Linked DNA regions of Homo sapiens. The protein of the gene in region 2 purifies or fractionates together with the protein of the main gene of each other region. This does not show direct contact. Each region holds a gene or a part of one and is shown on either strand. Other genes may lie near its edges.

Evidence for each region. The genes of interacting proteins can lie anywhere in the genome.
Region 1: the proteins of DCAF7 (region 2) and ZNF503 purify together in Homo sapiens (affinity purification with mass spectrometry; 5 studies listed by BioGRID and IntAct, with this or other methods). This does not show direct contact.

The regions. Positions count from the first base shown.
Region 1 is NC_000010.11:75,398,764-75,406,005, reverse strand, and holds the start of ZNF503 (zinc finger protein 503), read left to right. Parts: upstream 1-4,241; 5' UTR 4,242-4,586; coding exon 4,587-4,901; intron 4,902-5,631; coding exon 5,632-7,242. UniProt on the Homo sapiens protein: May function as a transcriptional repressor.
Region 2 is NC_000017.11:63,546,144-63,553,489, forward strand, and holds the start of DCAF7 (DDB1- and CUL4-associated factor 7), read left to right. Parts: upstream 1-4,333; 5' UTR 4,334-4,534; coding exon 4,535-4,672; intron 4,673-7,346. UniProt on the Homo sapiens protein: Involved in craniofacial development. Acts upstream of the EDN1 pathway and is required for formation of the upper jaw equivalent, the palatoquadrate. The activity required for EDN1 pathway function differs between the first and second arches.

The DNA.
Region 1 (7,242 bases), on a different chromosome or scaffold from region 2:
AGAGCCCCTGCTCGGAAAGAGATTATAGAGGACTTTGCCATGAGTTTCTGGGAACTGCACACTCCTGGGGCAACCCGGGAGAAATAACCCGGGCCCTGAGAACATCCTACTCCAGGCAGTGTGGCTGCGCAAGAAAGGTTTATACGGCACACCAAGAAGAGAGAGCCAGAATGGGAAATACTCCCTGGCAAGTAAAAAAAAGGGAAAAGGAAAAGGAAATGAAGGAAAAAGATGGGGGAGCCCAGAAAGACGCGGGAGAGAAAACAAAAAGAAGGGAGGAAGAAAATAAATGAGAGCCGAGGAGAGCGCAGGCCGTGGCGAGACCCCGGGCCGGGCCGCGGCTCCTGCACGCCAGGCTTCTCCCCTGCCCCGAGCAGCGGCGAGGGCCGCGCGGGACTGTCCCCTACTGGCCCCGCGAATCTGGGCCTTGCTCCCAGTCAGGTGGGGCGGACCTGGGTGCAGAGGCCTCCGCGCGCGCTTTCTCTCCCCGCTCCCAGGGACCGCGAGGCGGGGCAGGACAGGGGTGGGGAGGCCCCCGGGGGCGCGCGCCAGTCCGGGACTGTTTGGGTGCTCTGGGCCAGGCTTTCCAGCTCGCCGGGCCTGACCTGTCAGGCGGATTATCTTCGAGGGAGATTAATAGGGGAGGCGGGCTGCAATAATAATCGTTTTGTTTGATGTGACAACTCTGATAGGCGTTGATTTACTTACAAACTGATAGGCTTTTAATTGAGCGCCTCCGCCGAGCCCGAGATGAAAGGGAAGCGGCGGTGAAAGGCGGCCCGCCTGCCCTCCGGCCTCAATACTGATTAGCCATCTCGACAGTGAATAGTTCAAGGCATTTTCAAACTTTTTTCCTCAGCTCTTTCCCCTTCCTTCTCCTCCTCCCACCCCCTCCTCCAATATCTGCCTTGCCCACTCCTTTTTTAGAGAAAACAAATCATTTCCATTGTTTGCAAATAAAATCCGCAGGACATCCACGCCAACTGCTGCTGGGGGTTGGAGGCTTTAGGCCTGGCGCAGAGTAATTAATGGCCCCCACTCCCGGGCCCGCGCCGGCCTTCGGGGGTTTGGCCTCCTGCGCGAGGTGCGCAGGCTCGGACGCTGGCGCCTCCCAAAAGCCCCGGGCGCGCAGGCCCCCAGGCGCCCCCATGCGCTCGGACCCTCGGAGTGGAGTTTTGAGAAAAGCGAACGCACGCTGACCACGACCCGCACCCACGCAGCACAGCGCAGCCCCACGAGCGTGTGTGGCCACACCGGGGGACGCAGGAGCCACTCCACGGCCCCCCCAGGCTTCAGGTGCTGAGGCTGCCTCCCCTGAGCCGCCGGCGTAATAAGCTGCTGGAATTAGAGGAGAGGGGGAAGAGCTGAGTCTGGAGGCTGGGGAGGGACGCCCTTGGCTGCGTCCCCCCCGGCCCTGTCGCAGGCCCCAGAATTTCAGTGCCCGGGCCTCGCGGGGAGGCCGCGGCGATAGCGGCCCAAAGGTGGGCTCGCGGCGTTAGGAGCACTACCATTGGTTGGGTCGACACCTAGACGGCCGCGCACTCAGTAACCAGGCACACATGGACACACCCGAAGGATAAGAGTGCTTCACAGACGCGCTGCCCCGCAGAGACAGCGTAGGACTGTCCCGCCCTCCGAAACGCGCACCTGGGACTTGCTCCCCGGAGACCAGACAACCGCCTCCCTCAGCGTGGGGCCTCGCCACCCGCTCGCCGACTCACCTCCCTCAGATGTCGCACGGACACTACAAACCCCCTTGAATGCAGGTGTGCTCTTACACGCTCACACTGACAAACACCAGCCCCAAGCACACACCGCCTCACTCCCCTCTTCTCTCCAAATGAGCTTCAGTCAAGTTACCATTTCATAAAGTTTACCAACCCAAAGAATCAAGGGATAAAATCCAAACGCAGAAAAAGAATGCCTAGGAGCAAATTCTAAAACTCACCCCGGAAAGTTCTCGGTACCCGTGCGGAGTGGGAGACAGAGAAAGAAGCCGGGGAGGGGAGTCAGGTGGGGGAGGGGAGTGAGATGGGCCAAGAGGAGAGGGCGAGCATACCAAGGGCAGTTCCAGACCCGACCCCCGCGCGCACCCGGCTCAGCCCCAGGTGCGCGCCGGTCGAAACCGGGTCTCCAGGCTCGGCCCCCGCCCCCCACGCGGGCACAGACTGGCTCCCGACTCCCAGAGCTCCCAGCCCCACCATTTATCAAAAGGACTTGACAACAAAAGAAGAGCCGGGGCGGAAAAGCGGAGGAGGGGAGATTCAAAGTCTTCTAAGTCGTTCCGAGGAAGGGGGTGTGTCCTCCTCCCCACCCCCTCTAATTTCTGCGAGTTCCTGGAGGAGACCCTCGAACCCGCTCCGGACGCTATCAGAGCCCCGATAACTCACGCAGCGCCACAGGCATGCATACACACTGGGCATCCAGGTCCAGGTACCCGGTGGCACGCACAGCGCCTCCCCTTTTCTTCCCAAACAACCCGAGTGACGGTGCAAATCGAGGGGAACGCGGCAGTCCCGCTCCGCTTCCCTGGAAGAACCCGCGTTCCCACAGGCAGCCGCCCCCTCCCTCTCTCGCTCCTTCCCTCGGCTCTCCTAGCGCAGCTCATTCCGACTCGGCGTTCCAATAAATTCGAGAGAGCAGCCCCGAGTTACCCTGGCTCCCCAGCCTGCGGGGATGGCGGCAGGTGGGAGAAGGTCGGGGAGGGGGCATGAGTGAGCCTGAGATGTTTCTTCCCCCATACACCCATGGCCAGGCCTCTTCTTCGCAGCCTCTTAGCCCTGCTTACGACCCGAGGGGGTCAAAGAATTGAGGCGAGGTTTGCCCCACCATTGACCTCCAGGACTAGAAGTTCCTTGGTGGTGTGGCTCTTAGAAGTCTCCGAGTTTGGGGTTAGGGAACTACAGAGGGTGGCAGCCTGACCTCCGCACGCAACACGCCCCGCGAGGACTCGCGGCGGCGGGGTGGGGTGGCGGGAAATCTCCCGTGTTAGAAGTTGCCGCCGCTGGTCTCGGGTACCCGGAGCCGCGCCCGAACTCCGCGACCCCAACAGACCGAGGCTCCCAGAGGTGGAAGGGCGTCTCTCCGACACCGAGAGGGCAGGCGCACACTCCAGGCCTGCGCGCCCCTCTCGGCGCCCTGGGCGCACCTGCGCACTTTACTCTCGCTATTCATTTTCCTGACACCGTGCGCCTCTTTCATTCTTTTTCTTAGAGCCCCCACCCCACCCCCATCCCAGGAGGCCGCTCCTCTTTTCCCCTCCTCCAGTTCCCTCTCAATCTCCTCCTTCCTCTCCGTCTCTCTCTCCCTCTCTCTTTTTCCCTTCAAGTCGCACCCGCCTTGTAATCAGCAACAAAAGCTGACATAAATCACGGGAGGATTGACAAGAGCTGACAAATAACTGATTGATTGCGGTCGAGGAACATTGACAATTGATGGAGGGGTGGAGATGCCCAAAGAAGGGGGGGAGGGAGGAAAACAGGGTGGGAGAGTAAGAATGGGGGGTTGGGGGACAGACTGAGGGTGAAACAGAGGAAACATGTGACCCCCGCTGCTGCCCCAATCTACGCGTCCCCGGGCGTCACGTGGCCGGGAAGGGCGGAGAGCCCAGCGCTCCTCGCGGTGTTGAGCCGCCGCCGCTGCGACTGCCCATCTAGCTTCTGGTTTCTCCGCCGCGGAATCTGAGGAAATTAGAGCGGGCGGGCGGGCTTCTTCCAGCTCCGGCTCCCCACCTTGCCTTCTTACCCTGGTGGCTGCGCTGCGCCGCGCGGGATCTCGATTACTGCGAAGGAAAAAACACTGGGTGTGCAGGTTCCCTTCGCCCCTGGAGTTGACAGTCCGGCCGGTGTCCACACTCCCACCGGTGCTCCTTCTGGACACCCCCCGCAGTCTGTTCCTCACGCGCACCCCCCTTCAAAAGAAGGTTTCAGTTTATTTTCGAGCTGGGGAAAGGAAGAACGACGAGGAGGAAAAAAGAGGGAGGCGGCGGATGGCAAACGTAGAATAAATGTCCATCTCGTCCTCCCAGCGAAATCGAGGGAGGGGACACACAGGGGGGCGGCGAAGAGGGAGCTGCCCATTAAAACCGGCACTGAGAGTCCTGGCAGCGGCGGCGGCGGCGGCGCGGGACGCGTCACATCCCCTTGACCCTCCAATCACCTCGGGCTCCCATTTGATTGGAAGGCGGCAAAGGCTTTAATCTCCCCCTTGGTGCAGCTGCTTTTGAAGTGAGTTTCCTCGCCAGAGCCCCGGCTGGACACGCAGCGGCTCGCATCGCAGAGCGCAGCGCCGGCGCGGGGCCGCGAGAACGCAGCGCAGGGGAGCAGCCCGAGGCGGACACCGCGAGCCGCCCGGCACTCCCGCAGTCCAGCCGGCTCCTCTAGCCCGGCCACGGCTCCGCTGCGGGCCACCCAGGATTACTCGCGTCTGGCTCCAGGCGCCGAGAAGGCGCGCTGGGCGCCCGTGGCCGCCGCGCCAGCTCCTCCTCCTCCCGCTGCTCCTGCTCCCGGGGCGAGCGCGCAGCCCCGAGCCCGCCCCGCGCCTCCCGGAGCCCTCCCCCCCGCTGCTCCCATGCGCGCGGGTGGGTCATGAGCACAGCGCCCTCGCTTTCTGCCCTAAGAAGCAGTAAGCACAGCGGCGGCGGCGGCGGCGGAGGCGGAGGCGGCGGTGCAGACCCTGCCTGGACCAGCGCGCTCTCTGGAAATAGCTCCGGCCCCGGCCCAGGCTCGTCCCCGGCCGGCAGCACCAAGCCTTTTGTGCACGCCGTGCCCCCCTCTGACCCCCTGCGCCAGGCCAACCGCCTGCCAATCAAGGTGCTGAAGATGCTGACGGCACGAACTGGCCACATTTTGCACCCCGAGTACCTGCAGCCCCTGCCTTCCACGCCGGTCAGCCCCATCGAGGTAAGGACCCTCTCTCTGGATCGCACTGGGACCACTACCCTGGCTGCCACCCTAGGGCTTTCTTTTTCTCGGGATCTGGGCGGAGGTGGGGGGGTCGGAGTGATTCAGCTCCCGAATGGGGGAAGAGGCTACTGCTTCCGTACCTCAAAACTAGGGCGGAAAAGGGGGAGGAAGTGGAATGGGGCGTGCATGCTAGGGAGCAAGGCTGCCAATACTTGTTTCTCCTTTCGATATGAAAGCCCCTACCCCGACCCAGGCCCCTTCACTCGGCACCGAAGGCAGGCGGAGGTCTGAAATACGGTTCCAAAGTCGCCGTCCTTCGTATCCGCAGAAGCCAGTGTGTGCACACAGCCTCTGAGGCGCCAGCCGCCCGAGCCCTTACTCTGAAGAATTAAGGAGTGTTTGTGGGGAGGGGGTACAGTTCTGGGTCTAGGAACCGAAAACCAAAACATTTTGCTCTTTAAAAATCTAGTTAGCGCTCAGAGAGGGCAGGAAAGATGCTGCTGGGGGTGGTGGTTGGGCGGGGGGAGCAATCTGCTGCCTTTCCCAACGGCGAGAATGTTTGTGAGTGGGTGTTGAAGAGGGGGTGCCGCCTAGAATTGCGCCTTGGGGCTGGGAGGATCTTCGTGGGCTGTTGCGGAGAGGCATTTGAACCCCAGAAGCCAGGATTCTAAAGGGTTTCCACTTCTTTCTCTGTGTGACGCTCCCCCCCCATCGTCTGACCCCGCAGCTCGATGCCAAGAAGAGCCCGCTGGCGCTGTTGGCGCAAACATGTTCGCAGATCGGGAAGCCCGACCCCTCGCCCTCCTCCAAACTCTCCTCGGTTGCCTCCAACGGGGGCGGCGCGGGCGGTGCCGGCGGCGGTGCTGCGGGCGACAAGGACACCAAATCGGGCCCCCTGAAGCTGAGCGACATCGGCGTGGAGGACAAGTCGAGTTTCAAGCCGTACTCCAAACCCGGCTCGGATAAGAAGGAGCCGGGAGGCGGCGGTGGAGGCGGTGGCGGTGGCGGGGGCGGCGGCGGGGGTGTTTCGTCGGAGAAGTCGGGATTCCGGGTACCGAGCGCCACCTGCCAGCCATTCACGCCCAGGACAGGCAGCCCGAGCTCCAGCGCCTCGGCCTGCTCGCCGGGAGGTATGCTGTCCTCGGCCGGGGGTGCCCCGGAGGGCAAGGACGACAAGAAAGACACCGACGTGGGCGGCGGTGGCAAGGGCACCGGGGGCGCCTCGGCCGAAGGGGGACCCACGGGGCTGGCACACGGCCGGATTAGCTGCGGCGGCGGGATTAATGTGGATGTGAACCAGCATCCGGATGGGGGCCCGGGAGGCAAGGCTCTGGGCTCGGACTGCGGCGGTTCATCGGGCTCCAGCTCCGGCTCCGGCCCCAGCGCGCCCACCTCCTCCTCAGTGTTGGGCTCTGGGCTGGTGGCTCCCGTGTCACCCTACAAGCCGGGCCAGACAGTGTTCCCTCTGCCTCCCGCGGGTATGACCTACCCAGGCAGCCTGGCCGGGGCCTACGCCGGCTACCCGCCCCAGTTCCTGCCACACGGCGTGGCACTTGACCCCACCAAGCCGGGCAGCCTGGTGGGGGCGCAGCTGGCGGCGGCCGCGGCCGGGTCTCTGGGCTGCAGTAAGCCGGCCGGCTCCAGCCCTTTGGCCGGAGCGTCTCCGCCGTCCGTGATGACAGCCAGTTTGTGCCGGGACCCTTACTGCCTCAGCTACCACTGCGCTAGCCACCTGGCAGGGGCGGCGGCCGCCAGCGCTTCTTGCGCACATGATCCGGCTGCTGCGGCTGCGGCGCTGAAGTCCGGATACCCGCTGGTGTACCCCACGCACCCGCTGCACGGTGTGCACTCCTCGCTAACGGCCGCCGCGGCTGCTGGCGCCACACCGCCCTCCCTGGCCGGCCACCCCCTCTACCCCTACGGCTTTATGCTCCCTAACGACCCACTCCCCCACATCTGCAACTGGGTGTCGGCCAACGGGCCGTGCGACAAGCGCTTCGCCACGTCCGAAGAGCTGCTGAGCCACTTGCGGACCCATACGGCATTTCCCGGGACAGACAAACTGCTGTCGGGCTACCCCAGCTCGTCGTCTCTGGCCAGCGCTGCCGCGGCCGCCATGGCTTGCCACATGCACATCCCCACCTCGGGCGCACCGGGCAGCCCTGGGACGCTGGCGCTGCGCAGCCCCCACCACGCGCTGGGACTCAGCAGCCGCTACCACCCCTACTCCAAGAGCCCGCTTCCCACGCCTGGCGCCCCCGTGCCGGTGCCCGCCGCCACCGGACCGTACTACTCCCCCTACGCCCTCTACGGACAGAGACTGACCACCGCCTCGGCG
Region 2 (7,346 bases):
GCAGGAGAATGGCATGAACCCGGGAGGTGGAGGTTGCAGGGAGCCGAGGCCGCACCACTGCACTCCAGCCTGGGTGACAGAGTGAGACTCCAACTCAAAAAAAAAAAAAAAAAAGATCTTGGGGAGGCAGACAGCCCCCCAGATGGGCCTCTCCTAAAGTAGCTACAAACTGCTGATCCAGGTGACCCAGGATGGCGTGGGTGAAGAAGCTCACGACTTTTCCCAGCCTCCTCCAGGGCTCCATTTAAACAGCAAGCCTGGTGCAGGGTGGGAGAGTCTCAGGTGTGGAGGCAGCTTACAGGATTGAGGGGGCAGTGAAGAAAGAGGTTTCTGATCTACATGAGTACCTTGCTCTGAGCCTCCCAGCTCAGAACCCTCCAGCACCTCATGGCTCAGCACCAAGGCCCGGGGTTGGTCAGAACTCTTACCATGAGCCTCTGACCTGGCTGGAGATGGAGGTATGTTCTGTGGCAGACATGTCAGGACAGTCCTCCAGCCCTCTGCTCCTGATGGTTCTGTGACATTGGGTCTCTTGAGGGCAGTGGAGTGTCACACAGCTAATAAAGTACACATTTCATGTTGGACTGGGTGTGTAACTTATCTGAAGGTCATTACGTCTTTGACTGTGCTGTGGCTTTCTCCAAACCCTTCTTGTAAGGAGCTGCAGACTTACCCTCCACCATATCCAGTGTGTTGGGGACCTGAAGGTGGTTCTGCTGGGCCCAGAGGCTCCTGGAGCCTGGGGCTGTTAGGCCGAGGTGAAGGGAAGCAGAGGCACTGGCTTGGTGGCCCTAGGGGATCATGACAACAGCCAACACTTCGGTAGCACTCGCCCCGTACCAGGCACTGTGCTGACAGCTCTGCAGATACTTGTTCATCTAATCCTCAAAACAACCCCAACGGGTTGGTATTATTATCCCCATTTTACAGATGTGGGATCAGTAGCAGAGAGACTAAGACACCCAAACATGAGGGGGATTTCTGAGGTGCAGGTACTGTTCTGTTTCCTGATCTAGGTGCTGGTTACAGGTGTTCAGGTTGCGAAAGAGTGTGCTTCTGTGTGTAAATTATACCTCAGTTAAAAAGAAAATAAAAATAAAAAAAGAGGCCAGGTGTAGTGGCTCATGCCTGTAATCCCAGGGCTTTGGGAGGAGGATGAGGCAGGAGGACTGCTTGAGGCCAGGAGTCCAAGGTTACAGTAAGCCGTGATTGCATCACTGAACTCACACCCTGGGCAAGGGAATAAGACCCTGTCTCAAAATGAAAATTTTAAAAATCATCCCCGTGCCCAACACGGGGCATTTGTATTGACCCATTTCTACCCAAATAGCAGCGATTTGAGAGCCACCACCATCTATTTTAAAAACACAAGAAACCCTTCTTTAACATCGTTCTTTTTTCTTTTCTCATAATTCCCACTTATTCCTCCCATAGTTTTATCCTACATGTAATTTATTGGTATGCTTCAAAGCCTAATATTGATCACCCTATCATATGTTTGCAACACAAATATGTATACAGGCTGGGTGCAGTGGCTCACTCATGCCTGTAATCCCAACACTTTGGGAGGCTGAGGCTGGAAGATTGCTTGAGCCAGGAATTCAAGACCAGCCTGGGCAGCATAGCTCAACCTGGTCTCTACAAAACAATTTTTTTTTAATTAGCCAAGCATTGTGATGCGCACCTGTAGTCCCAGGTACTACAGGGCTTGCTGGGAGGCTTGGGTGGGAGAGTCACTTGAACCTAAGAGGTCAAGACTGCAGTAAGCCATGTTCATGCAACTGTACTCCAGCCCGGGTAACAGAGCAAGACTCGGTCTCTTAAAAAAAAAAAAAAAAGTGGCTGGGCGCAGTGGCTCACACCTGTAATCCCAGCACTTTGGGAGGCTGAGGTGGGCAGATCACGAGGTCAGGAGATCAAGACCATCCTGGCTAACAGGGTGAAACCCCATCTCTACTAAAAATACAAAAAAAATAGCCAGGCGTGGTGGCAGGTGCCTGTAGTCCCAGCTACTCGGGAGGCTGAGGCAGGAGAATGGCGTGAACCCAGGAGGTGGAGCTTGTAGTGAGCCAAGATCGTGCCACTGCACTCCAGCGTGGGCAACAGAGCAAGACTCCGTTTCAAAAAAAAAGTAGGTCGGTCATGGGGTGGCTCATGCCTATAATCCCAGCATTTTGGGAGGCTGAGGTGGGAGGACCAGTTGAACCCAGCCTGGGCAACATAGCAAGATCTTGTCTCTACAAAAAATAAAGGAGGCAGGAGGATTGCTTGAGCCCGGGAGGTCAAGGCTGCAATAAGCACTGTTTGCCCCACTGCACCACCACCTGGATAACAGAGCAAGACCCTGCCTCAAAACGAATGTGTATAAATTAATTGACATTTTAAAATTAATTTTTGTAACCTTAATAAGGCTTTAAGGGTTACATCTATTAGTAGTACAGTTGTTCAAAACAACATAAATATATATTCAATTTTCTAATAAAAACTAAAATTTTATTGGAAATATACGTCATAAAAGAGAAAATTTCCTCCCCCCGTTAGTTCCTATATCTGTGGATAAATATCATTATTTTTTATTAGAATAAGACAAGGTACCGCGAATTTTGTACGTCTTTTTCTTTCCTTTTTAAATTTGTTTTTAAACTTTCCTCCTTACAGGGGATTTCCTTTAGCTGGGCATGGTGGCGGGCGCCTGTAATCCCAGCTACTCAGGAGGCTGAAGCAAGAGAATCACTTGAACCCTAAAGGCAGAGGTTGCAGTGAGCCGAGATAGTGCCACTGCACTACAGCCCGGGCGACAGAGTGAGACTCCATCTCAAAAATAAAATAAAATTAAAAAAAAAAGAGGATTTCTTGGCCAGATGCGGTGGCTCACGCCTGTAATCCCAACACTTTGGGAGGCCGAGGCTGGAAGATCATTTGAGGTCAGGAGTTCGACACCAGAATGGCCAACATGGTGAAACCCCATCTCTACTAAAAATACAAAAATTAGCTGGCTGTGGTGGTGCACCCCTGTAATCTCAGCTACTCGGGAGGCTGAAGCAGGAGAATCACTTGAACCTGGGAGGTGGAAAAATCATTTATCATTAAAAATTATATTTAGTGCCCAGAATGGTGGCTCAAGCCTGTAATCCCAGTACTTTAGGATGCTGATGTGGGAGGATCGCTTGAGCCCAGGAGTTCGAGATCAGCCTGGGCAACATGGAGAGATCTCATCTCTACAAATAATAATTTAAAAATAGCTAGGTGTGGTGGCAAATGTCTGTGGTTCCAGCTACTCCAGAGGCTAAAGTGGGGGAATCGTTTGAACCTAGGCAGTCCAGGCTACAGTGAGCCCTTATCACACCAGTGCACTCCAGCCTGGGTGACAGGGCAAGACCCTGTCTTTAAAAAAAAAAAAAAAAAGTATTTAATGTTATCATCCAACAATTCAATACAAACCTCCTTCAATTTTGATGAAAGCTGAGAATTGGAAATAATTTATATAAAGGTGTCATTTGGTCTCTGGCCCTTCCCCTTTTCCAACTCACAGGCACAGATACCTTTGGGGCTGGATTAGCATTTGCGTTGGGATCCACGGCGGGAAGGGTACAGGATGGGAACTGACAAAAACAGAGCCAAGCTGGTCGGGTCGGTGCCTACCCCAGAATTCGGGGACATTTCTAGATCCTGCAGGAAAGCGCGGGAGGGCCTGACTCAAGCTGGCCTGGCCCTGAGCGCATCTGCGCGCCCGAAGCCTGTCCCTGAGGCACGGAGAGAGCAGCTTTCGGGTTAAAAGGGCCCTGGGAAGAGATGGGGCGGGAAGGTGGTACCCGTTGGGCGCAGGCCAGGCTGCCAGGCCGCAGGGCTCTGTCCCGCGAAAGTCAGTAGGTCTTCCACTAAGGCAGAATTGTACTTTTACTCGACAGCGTGGAGAGGCCGCTCAGAACAGCAGCAGCGGAGGGGAAGTCAGCGCAGGTCACAGACGGTTTCACTCTCAGAGACTTGGCCTAGAACTTGGAGGCCCGCTGCTACAGCACGCTCGCCTCCAGGCCACCCACGCCCCCACCACCCGCACTGAGCCGTTATCTGCCTGACTGACATCTTGGCCAACCAATGACCTTTGGGGCTGCCAAAGCGCCTGCCTCCGAGAGTTGGGCGGGGCGAGTAGTTGCAATGACAAACATTTAACCCAATAGCGAGGAGATTTCAGACGCTACGGCCGCAATAACCAATGACAAGAAAGAATCCTTTCGAAAGGACGTGTCAGGCAACCAACGGCCGGTGCCGCTGCGGGGGTCCGGCGGCTTCCGTTCCGAGAGGGCGGGGCGGCGTCCCAAAACGGAAGGTGGTTGTCGTCCGTTCCCAAGCTGGTTTGAAACTAGGGGTCGGGCTCGGCCGTCGTCGTTGTTTGTCGCCGCATCCCCGCTTCCGGGTTAGGCCGTTCCTGCCCGCCCCCTCCTCTCCTCCCTTCGGACCCATAGATCTCAGGCTCGGCTCCCCGCCCGCCGCAGCCCACTGTTGACCCGGCCCGTACTGCGGCCCCGTGGCCACCATGTCCCTGCACGGCAAACGGAAGGAGATCTACAAGTATGAAGCGCCCTGGACAGTCTACGCGATGAACTGGAGTGTGCGGCCCGATAAGCGCTTTCGCTTGGCGCTGGGCAGCTTCGTGGAGGAGTACAACAACAAGGTGGGCCGGGCAGGGGCTCGGAACCCAGCTGGCGGGGAGCGGGCCCCGGGAGCGCCCTTTCCGGGCCGGAGCCCAGGCCTCAGAACCCTCTTGCGGACTCGCCCTAGGGCCACGGAGCGGTTCCTCTGTCTGGCCCTGTGCTGAAGGTTTCGTACTCGTTGTCTGTCTCCTTTAATCCAGGCAGCATTCTTGTGTAGTCGGCAGTGTAGTGGGGAAACTGAGGCACGGTTTTGTGACTTGCCTGGGTCAGGCAGCTATTTCGGGGTGGAAACAGGTCTTAAAACCGGGTTTACGCCCCAAAGATACTCCATTTATTCATCCCGTGCTCTCCACTCCTGCCGCATTGCTTTCGTTGGTGGGCGGGGAAGGGAAGAGAGAGTGATAGCTGTGAAGGAAAATGCAGGCGCTTCTATTGGTGGTCGTGCACTCCTGGCCACACTAGATTTCTATTAAGACGATCTATTGTACAAGCTTCCCCGCCCCCTACTCCCACCCCCCCCGGGTACTCATGGATCCTAGCCCTTCTGCCAGAATTACTGTTGCTCTTGCTTCCTGATATCCATTCTCTCTAAAGCAATCTCTTTGGAAATCTTGGCCTGTGGCATGATCCCGCCGTTGTTTCCTGAACACAGAAGGATGACAGGGCCTTATCTCTTGGCTTGTTTCGTGCTAGTACAGTTGTGTGACCTTTAGTAGTAAGTCTTGCTGGACATACATCAATTTGAGAATCCTTTATAGAAGCACGGTGTAGTAGGGGAGCTTTTAAACTGGCATTGCAACAAACTCATTTTTGAAAGTTGAATAAGTCAGTTGGAAGAATTTTCTTTCTTCCTTTTACTCAAAGTTGTGAATGATAGCGATCAGAGCAACTGAAAGCTGTGGCTAGTGATATTTAAAGCCACTACTCCTGCTTTATGCCATGAACATCAGATTTAAGAAGAGTAAAACTGGCCGGGCGCGGTGGCTCACGCCTGTAATCCCAGGACTTTGGGAGGCCGAGGCGGGCGGATTACCTGAGCTCAGGAGTTCGCGACCAGCCTGGGTAACACGGTGAAACCCCGTCTCTACTAAAATACAAAAAAAAAAAAAAAAAAAAAAAAAAAAAAAAAAAAAAAAGCCGGGCGTAGCTTAGTGCGCCTGTAGTCCCAGCTACTCGGAAGTCTGAGGCTGGAGAATTGCTTGAACCTGGGAGGCGGAGGTTGCAGTGAGCCGAGATGGCGCCACTGCACTCCAGCCTGGGCGACAGAGTGAGACTCTGTCTCAGAAAAAAAAAGAAGAATAAAACTGTTCAGTGACAAGGCTGATGCAGGGGGGAAGAAACCAGGTGGTCCTGTCTGGTTATTGACTAGCTGTGAGATGTTGCACAGGCCTGTTTTATTATCTGTGACCCACAGTTTGTACGGAAGGGGTTCTGGTTTACATGTGAGGGTCTTGTAAAAAAGAAATTTGAACATTTCACAGTTTGTTTACAGTTTTTCAGGAGCACATTTGTTTCTCTAGAGTAGGTCCTCTTTGGAGTCCACTTTGAGAAGCTGATGAAAGCTATGGATTCTCATTGTCCAGACATTACACATACATGAACAATTTACAAACAAATCCAAGGAATATGCACTGATCTTTAAGTCCACCCATTGCCCGGGCGAGATAGAGCTTTCTTTCCTCTGTTGCTTCTTTCTTCCTTATGGCCCATAGTGGACAGCAGAACTGGAAATGGGATTCACGATTCTGATGTGGACACCGTGTTAATAAAATTAAGACCACTAGAACTATTGTTTAAAGATACACGTGGAAAATAAAAAAGTATGTCTTTCAAAGGGCTTAAGTCTTTTTACACAAATTAATGTTTTTTCTTGTAAGTTTTTCCAGGGTCGTTGGGTAAGCAATAGTTACTCCTATTCCTCAGAGAGGAGAAACTGAGCCACAGTTAGGCTGCTTGGTAGGATCAGTGGAGTAGTCAAACTGCTGTTGCAGGAACTCTACCCCAGTTTGTCCTTTCATTTAGCAACTATCTGGAGCTTCCTCTTTGTGACAGGCACACAGGTAGCATGGCTTAGCAGTGAAATGCAAACTAATAACCCCACTATCAACAGCATTAGCAGTTAACTATATCTTAACTCACATGATGTAGGCAATGCGCTGTCTTAAAATCATTTTTGTGCCTCCACCTATCAGTAGATCAGGGTTCTTAAATTCTGTGTGCCATGGTCATCTGATACCAATAGACCCCTTCTCATAGTTATGTTTTCAAATGCATAAAACACATAGAATTACAAAAGAAACCACTTATGTTGCACTACAGATATAAACAACATGTTTTTTAAAGTGGTGATGTAGTCATATGTACTTTTAATAAATTAACTTATTGATTTACACCATCCACTGTAATTATTAATGTAATTTTGAAATGGTGACAAGGGTAAACAGCATTTCAAGATGCTTAACAACTGTGCTGTGGTGGGAAAAAAAAATTCTCTTGCTGGCAAAGTCACAGACAGTCATACCACTGTGAGCACCTGACCCCATTTGTAATTGAAGGAAACAAAAAAATTTAGCTAGAGGTTAATGGAAATATGGGGATAATTTTCCAATTCAAGTTCACAGACCCCAAGTTAAGAAACCCTGCGAGAGAGAAGTATGTGTAGTGGTTGGTGAGCAGCAAATCCTGCCTTAAAGT